2 separate regions of the Homo sapiens genome follow, and region 1 is linked to region 2. A link means that fine-mapping ties the variant in region 2 to the expression of a gene that starts in the linked region. Tissue or cell type: whole blood. Region 2 holds a variant in brackets; the other region holds the start of a gene. All regions are shown on one strand. Distances are from middle to middle.

Region 1 (4,397 bases), 22 kb before region 2:
TGTTGTCCAGGCTGGAGTGCAACAGCTCTATCTCAGTTCACTGCAACCTCTGCCTCCCGAGTTTAAGCGATTCTCCTGTGTCAACCTCTTGAGTAGCTAGGATTACAGGTGCCTGCCACCACGCCCAGCTAATTTTTGTATTTTTAGTAGAAATGGGGTTTCATTATGTTGGCCAGGATGGTCTCAAACTCCTGACCTCAGGTGATCCACCCGCCTCGGCCTCCCAAAGTGCTGGGTTTACAGGTGTGAGCCACTGCCCCCGGCCAGTCTACATTATTTTAAAAAACACAACCAAAATAAAACAGAGGCCGGCACTGCCCCTCAGCTCACTTTTTACATCTATGCCTTGGGTTACCTTGGCTTAGGAATTATAGTCCAGGGGCAGGGACATGTATACACATGTGCTAGAACTTCCTACTTATCTCCTTTCAGGTAACTCTACCAGAGGGGCTCAGACTGATCAGCCAGTGGCAGTGAGAGCACATTTTTCATAGTACCACAAGATTATCCATGTTGAGCTGACATCGGAGTTCCTATCATAATATCTAATCACTCAATAATATCTAATTACTCAAGACTTTCAGAGTGTTTTCACATCTGCTATCCGGTACCAGAGTGTTAGCTCCAGGAGGCAAAGGTTTTGGTTCTTTTTGTTCACCGCTGTATTTTTAGTGCTTAGAACTGAACTTGGTACATACTAAGTGCTCAATAAATGGTACTCAATAAATGACCACATTTAATGATTGTTATTGATATTTAATCATCACAACAATCCTGTGAGGATAGGTAGGACATGTATTATTATCCCCATTTTATAAGTTAGAAAACAGAGAGATTTAAGAACATGTCAAATACTTCATAATTTGGTGAAAAAAAATCATGATTTAATTTCAGGTTTGTACTTCAGTTCCCCTCTTTCCACCCATTTCTTCACAACTGAAGAGCTAAGGTTTAAAATTCTTATATCTCTGAAACGCCAGCTGTAAGCATTCTAAAATACATGATAGGTACTATTAGACACCCTATGTTATCTGATATCTCAGCTTGTAGGGTGAATGAGGCCTACCCAGCTGCCATTGCATCAATAATCACAGTTCTCTCAAAGGAGATTCACTGTTCTTCTGGGTAATCTAATCCACCCAACCTGAAGCTACCTTGTACTCATGTTTCTCTCCTTGACCTACACTTGTCTCTACTCTCCATCCTAGCCATTCCACTTCTCCAAGCAAAAGAAGTTAAGGAAGCCCTGTTATTGAAAAAACACATGTTATAATATATTTTTCATATGAAAAAGAAAAGAAAAATGATGGCCAGACATAGTGGTTCATGCCTGTAATCCCAGCACTTTGGGAGGCAAGATGGGAGGATTGCTTGAAGCCAGGAGTTCGAGACAAGCCTGGGCAAAAAAGCAAGGCTCGTATCTACAAAAAAGAAAAAAACAATTTTTTTTTAAATTAGCCAGGCATGGCGATACACACCTGTGGCCCCAGCTACTCAGGAGGCTGAGGCAAGAGAATCACTTGAGGCCAGGAGTTCAAGGCTACAGTGAGCTGTGGTTGCACTGCTGCACTCCAGCCTGGGTGACAGAGTAAGATTCTGAATCTTAAAAAAACAAACAACAACAACAAAAAAAACTGTGGCAGTGGGTAGTTTTGGTGCTCTTCAAAAACCTTTGTCAACCAAATAGAATCCCAGAGGGGAGGCTAAAAATGTAATATTGCATGAAAAGTTAACATTGGTCTCTTTCTTCTTAATATTAATTAAAATTAGTAATATAAAGCATAAACCACAACTTAGATACCTGGGGAAATCTGGATGTTCAATTAATATTAGTGTTTTTACATCTGGAGTTGTATATGTCTTCTGTAGGATTCCTAACCAAACTCCAAAGAACTAGCAAACAAAATATTAAAACCAGTAATTTTGAGAGAATACCTGAAATACATGCAAACCACTCAGAGAAGTCAAACTTTTTTTTTTCTGTCTTCCCCGCCAAGGTCTCATATTTACTTTATCCCAAGAGCAATTTGGTCTCGGAAAATTGGACCCCCATAGTCAGTTAAATAGTGTATGTAACTACCCTGAGAGGGTCACATACAGGACTCACCAGAAATTCATTGGCAAACTCCTCTTTAGTAATTTTCTTGCTTTGGGCCTCATCCAGGAACTTCTGCAGAATTTCTCTTTGGTCCATGCTGCAGAGCAAGAAAAATAGTCTATAAGTAGGTTGAGGGAGGGCATGTCAAATGTGTGTCATGGCCGAGACACCTCCAAAAAGCCACTGCTGCCGCCTGAGCAGAGCATGCTGAAGGCTGTGGTTTACTGACTTCATCACAAGCCCTAGAGGAAATTAGTACGTAACCACCTTCTGTGGTCACATAACACAGCCATCATCTCACTCCAGGGCCCTAGTGCCTTCCTTCTCAGCAAAGGAACCTGGTTACAATTCAAATTTTTAACAAACAAGAGGCTAACTAGAACGTAAAGTGTGGTCTGCTTAACTGAGATTATTCCATTCCATCACCCATATGCAAAACTCACCTTTCTTCTTGCCTCCCAGAGAAAGAACAGAATTACAGGTCTCCTGAATGAGTTCTGTCTCTCCCCATTTTCCCAGTGAGCACAAGGGCCAAGTTGACACCTTCTGTTTCCTTATGTCCCAAATGAACTCTGCAAAGTTCAGTTAGGCCCAGGAAAGAAGACAGACACTGTTTAGAGTGAGTGACATGTCTTCTACCCGGACTGTTCATCGAAAGGTTTCTTGTCAGTGTGATCAATGAGAAACTTCTGTTCATCACAGAAGGTATTTTTATTCATAACTTTTAAGTCTGCTATATATACCTCAAACTCCCTTTTGAATGAAGCAAAGTCAGATGCTTCTGACAGTCTGTGTCTCTCCCAGGACTGGGGAAGTGCTGACCTCCATTAAGGGAAGTGTTGATTTCAGCACCTCTTCAACCCTCCCAGTAACCTTTGAAGCTTCACTTGGGTTCTGGATATAAAGACTAAGAGTGTTGGTCTATATAGGATCTAGAGCAAGTGGCCCCCACAAGGAGCACCTGACCAGACAGTTAGCTCAATACCCTGCATATGTAATGCTGGTAAACTGTGATGGAACAAAAAGAAAGTAAAATCAACCACCTTGCTGACAACATTGTAACTTTTAGGGCAGAAAGCCTGAAGAACTGTTTCTAAAGAACACATTTCTACTCTGCAACCAATGTCTTAGGAAATAAATTTGTTTCAGGAAGTTATGCTGTGCCTGTGGCATTTTGGCCCTGAAAGGCAGGCTCTTCTAGAAAAACTTTCCACATTTGAGCTTGCATAACCTCTCAATGGGTACAAGTCTACCCAAGTGCCTAATTCAGTGTGAGAACATCCAAAAATCAGTATATCATCTTTATTGAAGGCAGAAGTTCAACAAATGTTAACAAAATTAGTCTTGATCCTGAAGAAAACTGGGAAATGTGTTGTTAGGACTTCCTCTATTTAAGATATTAGCAATCCTTTCTGTTTTGCAACATTATTCAAACTTCCTTCAGGATATCATGATTCTGAACACTGCTTAATCTGAACATTAAAGATACTGCATGCTCTTTACTAAGTACTGCAAAAAAAAAAGAAAGATCATCGAGATATCTTGGTTATAGACAACTTAAAGACAATATTTCAAATTAAGAAACTCAATCCCAGTATACATAAATTAAAATAAACCCTCATTCTTCAGCAATATTTGTTAGGAATAGTATATTTCTTAAATTATCCCCATCTAGAATTAAGAGAGAATTTCTTGCTGCTCTAAGTAACGTGATGTTTACTTTGGCTATTTTAAAACATAAAATATGGGAAATCTTTGATTTATAAAAATACAAAATTTCAAGTTTGTAATAACTAAAACCATGTAAAAGTGTGTACATAGTTAAAGACTAAAAGAAGCAAAAAAGAATCAATTGTGTAAGTTTGCTTTCTAAAATTATCATAATTTTAGAATTATGATAAAGTTTGCTTTCTAAAATTATCATACCGTTTTTAAAATTAGAAATAAACATTTAAAAATCCATTAAGTTGTTCAACAAATTTATTGAGTACCCACTAAATTCTAAACATTGTCTTAGGAGATTGGCATACAACACTGAGAAAGCCAGAATATGGTAAAAACAAAACAAAACAAAACAAAAACATCCTTAGCCAGTTAATAAAGCAACTCAGAACTAAAGATACAGACATGATTACTGATAAAAATTAAAACACTCCTTAGGTAACTTTGGGAAAGAAAATAAAAATAAAAACATTCCAAACTAACTTGCTTAATTGCAGAGTAGCAAAGCATAATCCTAAAAGGAAAATGATTTTCTATGTTTGGACAAAGAAGATAATATAGTTTTATAATTTCTCTG
Region 2 (4,397 bases):
TAAACATCTACTTATATCACATCATCAAACCCCATGTCTGCAGAAGCTATACAGAGTTCCTAGCAGGGGAAATATTAAAGAATTAACTTCATAGTATACCTGAGCTTTAGTCATTTTGCTTATAAATTAGTAAAACCAGGCTACAGGAGAAATCAGTTCTTCATTGAGATAATCTTAAAAGTATATTTTCCAAAAGCAACAATTTCATATTCTATGTATTCCTCTTACATTATAGAAAAGCAACCAAGTAGAACATAGTCTTCTAAAAGCTCCAATAGTTGGGATCACTTTAGTATTATTATTTATTCAGTTGCTTAGTCATACCTAATTTTCTTTAGATCAACATTTCAGTTATAGTCTTTAATTTTAAAAAGTCAATAAGTTTACTCAATTTCTACCACCTGCATCCTGTTCCCTTGCTACGCCTTTTTTTTTTTTTTTTTTTTTTGAGATGGAGTCTCACTCCGCCACCTGGGCTGGAGTGCAGTGGCACAATCTCGGCTCACTGCAGCCTCCGCCTCCCAAGTTCAAGCGATTCTCCTGCCTCAGCCTCTCGAGTAGCTGGGATTACAGGTACCCGCCACTACACCCAGCTAATTCTTTGTATTTTTAGTGGAGACGGGGTTTCACCATGTTGGCCGGCTGGTCTCAAACTCCTCAACTTGTGATCCACCCGCCTCAGCCTCCCAAAGTGCTGTGATTGCAAGCGTGAGCCACCACGCCCGGCCCCTTGCTACACTTTGAATTGGCAGCACTTCAATTTTATTTCTCTTAGTACCTAATTAAACATTCACCATTTAACTGAACCATAAAAATACAGAAAATGCAATTCTGAAGCTGTTCTAATCCCTCCCTTTCCTGTCCCTGAGGATCCATGGTCTAAATCAGTGGTTCTCAAGTAACAGCAATTTTGCCGCCTGTCCCAGGGGACCTTTGACAATGTCTAGAGACATTTTTAGTTGTCACAACTGAGGGTTCTACTGGCATCCAGTGGGTAGACAGAGGCCAGAGATACTGCTAATAATCATTCTACAGTGCAGAGGAAAGCCCCTCACAACAAAGAATTATCTGGCCTCAAATGTCAGTATTGCCACTTTTAAGAAATCCTGGTCTAGAATAAGTTCCATCATTTTCCATATAGTTGATACAATATCATAAAACCCATTTCAAACATCAATCCCAAAACACATCAGAATCTAATTATATACAGCCATTCATTCAGTAAAGATTTACTGAGTAATACTATGTGGCAGGCACTATGGAAATAAAAGGAAAGAAAGAATCATTCTTAAAAGTTGTTCAGGCGAGGCACGGTAGCTCATGCCTGTAATCCCAGCACTTTGGGAGGCCGAGGCAGGTGGATCACCTGAGGTCAGGAATTTGAGACCAGCCTGACCAACATGGTGAAAACCCATCTCTATTAAAAATACAAAAAATTAACTGGGTGTGGTGCGGGCACCTGTAATCCCAGCTACTTGGGAGGCTGAGGCAGGAGAACTGCTTGAACCCGGGAGGTGGAGATTGCAGTGACCCAAAACCACGCCATTGCACTCCAGCCTGGGCAACAAGAGCAAAACTCCACCTAAAAAAAAAAAAAAAAAAAAAAGGTTGTTCAATGGGGAAGTCCATTCAATAAACAACTCACAAAACCCAGGCTCTTACCAGAAAATTCAATACTGTCTGTTATCTACTCCTATTAAGAGCTTAGTTGAGGCTGGGTAACACTTGAAGTCAGGAGTTACCAGCCTGGCCATCATGACGAAATCCCATCTCTACTAAAAATACAAAAATTAGCCAGGCGTGGTGGTGCATGCCTGTAGTCCCAGCTACTTGGGAGGCTGAGGCAGGAGGATGGCTTGAATCTGCAATGTAGAAGTTGCAGTGAGCTGAGATCACACCACTGCACTACAGCCTGGGTGACACAGCAAGACTCCGTCTCAGATTTAAAAAAAAAAAAAAAAAAGGCTATTTGAGAGAAGTGATAGGTGAAAAATTATCTGAAGGTATGTGCTTATCTATATCTAGGTAGTAAAAATCCTTGAATTAAGCTGGATGATAAAGGCTATATACTTGGATCATGTTATCTTAAGTCCTTGAAGAAATGCCTTCATTAAGCACCATGTTATTATTATTATTATTATTATGGAGACAGGGTCTTGCTCTGTAGCCCAGGCTGGAGTTCGGTGGCATGAGCATAGCTTATTGCAGCCTTGACCTCCTAGGCTCAAGCAATGCTCCCACCTCAGCCTCCCAAGTAGCTGGGACTACAAGCACACGCTGCCACACCTGGTTAATGTTTTACTTTTGTAGAGATGGGGATCTCACTACATTGCCCAGGCTGGTCTCAAACTCCTAGCCTCAAGTGATCCACCCACCTTGGTCTCCCAAAGTACTGAGATTAAAGGCGTAAGCCACCATATCTAGCCTACTTTTTTTATGTTCTTTTTTTTTGACAGGGTCTCCTGTCACCCAGGCTGGAGTGCAGTGGTGTGATCACTACTCTCTGTAACCTCAAACTCCTGGGCTCAAGCAATCCTCCTGCCTTAGCCTCTTGAGCAGCTGGGATTTCAGGCATGTGCCACCATGCCTGGCTAAGTCAATTTTTTTACAGACAGGGTCTCACTATGCTGCCCAGGCTGATCTTGAACTCCTGGCATCAAGCAATCCTCCCTCCCTGGCCTCCGAAAGTGCTGGGTTACAGGTGTGAGCAACTGCACCCAGTCTAAGCTCT[G/A]TATTAAAGTCATGCTCTCTGCTTTCGTTGAAGAATACTGTTAAGAAAGTCATGTGAAACCCATTACTAACTTCTCATAGGATCTTGCACATATCTTAGTACCACCTATGTGAAACTACATGTACATTTCTTTTAGAAATCAATGTTTCTTCCTCTCTGATGACAATTATAACTGTTTCCCTTAACTCTGACTGCTAAATCACCTATAGAGACAAATCAAGGCTCAACTATATCACCTAATAGGCCCATACAGCCTGAACATTTGTATATTTCCCCATCCCCAACCTAGCTGGTCTTAACTGGTATTTTAATTTTTCCCATTCTGGATTCGCTATTTATATTTTACCATCATTTTATTAGATTTGTTCTTGCCATAAGTTGCTTCAATGTACAAAATGTGGTCAGATAAGAACAGAATAAAAATTGAGGACAAGCAACAAGAAAACAATTACAATACTACTGCTAGAGGTATGCTCTGGCTACTTTGATAGCTTGAGGGAGGCCCCTAATGAAGGCAGTGAGGGTTAAAGGAAACTTCCTGAAGGAGCTTATGAGTGAGCTGAACACTGAAAGATAGACGAGGTGTTAATTCAAGAAGATATGAGGGTGAGAAAATGTTCCAGGCAATAAATAAAAGCAGGTTTAAGTTAACACAGAGGTGAAAGAAGCAGGTGTATAAAGGGAACTGCAATGCAAATGGTTTGCTTCTGCCAGAAAAGAAGTCATTTTGGGAGTGGCAAGACTTGACACCAAAGAGGTACTTTAGATGACATTAAGGACTTTGGAATCTGGCCTAAAAGCATGATTGGAAATATGAGAACAGTTAGGAATTTACTATAATAATCCAGGGAAGAAAAGATGACCCCCACAAATGATGACCCCTATCAGTTTCCACACATCAGCCATCTTTAATTACTAACACAATTCCTAAAATTGATTAGGAAATAATCCAAATCCCATCCTCAACGCATCTCCTTACCAACATTAACCTCTACAACATCATCACTGAAAAATGGGGTCAATTGCCAATAGGAATGAAAGGAATGAATCAATGTTCTTTGGCCAAAAACTTAAGAATCCTGATTTCTAGATTTTCCACTCTCCTTTGTATCTGATATTATCTGGACTTACTGGCAGCTCTAATAGGAAAGACTAAGAAAGTGTAATAGTTATTCATCTTACTCTAGACAAGCAACAAGACTCTGTTATGATTTTATTTCTTCAATTGTTCCAATCACAGTTTCTAATACAGAAATAAAACTATTCAGCGTCTCCGTTCTTGCTTCATTTTGTTTCACAGAGATCTGCATTTCTGAGTTTCCAGGCTCCAATAGCAGTTCTGTTAAGAACAGACAGCCAGTATCATCCTGAGCACTGAGGTATGCTTTCCATGGCCGAGACCCAGCCCTACTCATTGCGATGGTCTGGATGTTCACTACTTGAAGAGCCATCTGGAGGGTGTCAGGATGGAATTCTCCCCGCCAAGGCAACACTTGCTGATGAGCAACTTTAAGGCTAAGCCAAGTTTTCTCAAAATAATCAGCAGTAAGCTGGCGATTGGGGACTAGCATGAGGGCTCCAGAATCAGGGAGTTCTTGTACCCTCTCCTTGTTCTCTTCAGGAATCAAGGGTCCTAAAAGAGACAGAAAACTTGTGTGAAAGATGT

Evidence for each region. PIP is the estimated chance that this variant, and not a neighbour inherited with it, causes the effect.
Region 1: it holds the start of PTPN22, and the variant in region 2 is the best candidate, but not a certain one, in a credible set for the expression of PTPN22 in whole blood (INTERVAL, PIP 0.78).

What each region holds. Positions count from the first base shown.
Region 1 is chr1:113,869,430-113,873,826 of GRCh38, forward strand. PTPN22 (protein tyrosine phosphatase non-receptor type 22) reads right to left here and starts at 2,283. Exons shown (of 21, transcript NM_015967.8): 1 at 2,108-2,283. The coding sequence starts at 2,194. All of the region lies in intron 3 of AP4B1-AS1 (AP4B1 antisense RNA 1), which reads left to right. RefSeq lists enhancers at 1,421-1,470, 2,029-2,288.
Region 2 is chr1:113,891,129-113,895,525 of GRCh38, forward strand. AP4B1 (adaptor related protein complex 4 subunit beta 1) reads right to left here. Exons shown (of 10, transcript NM_001253852.3): 10 at 3,066-4,364. The coding sequence ends at 3,937. All of the region lies in intron 3 of AP4B1-AS1 (AP4B1 antisense RNA 1), which reads left to right. Among named protein-coding and RNA genes, the nearest start is that of BCL2L15, 5.7 kb to the left of the region's middle. The variant G/A (reference allele first, on the strand shown) is at 2,732.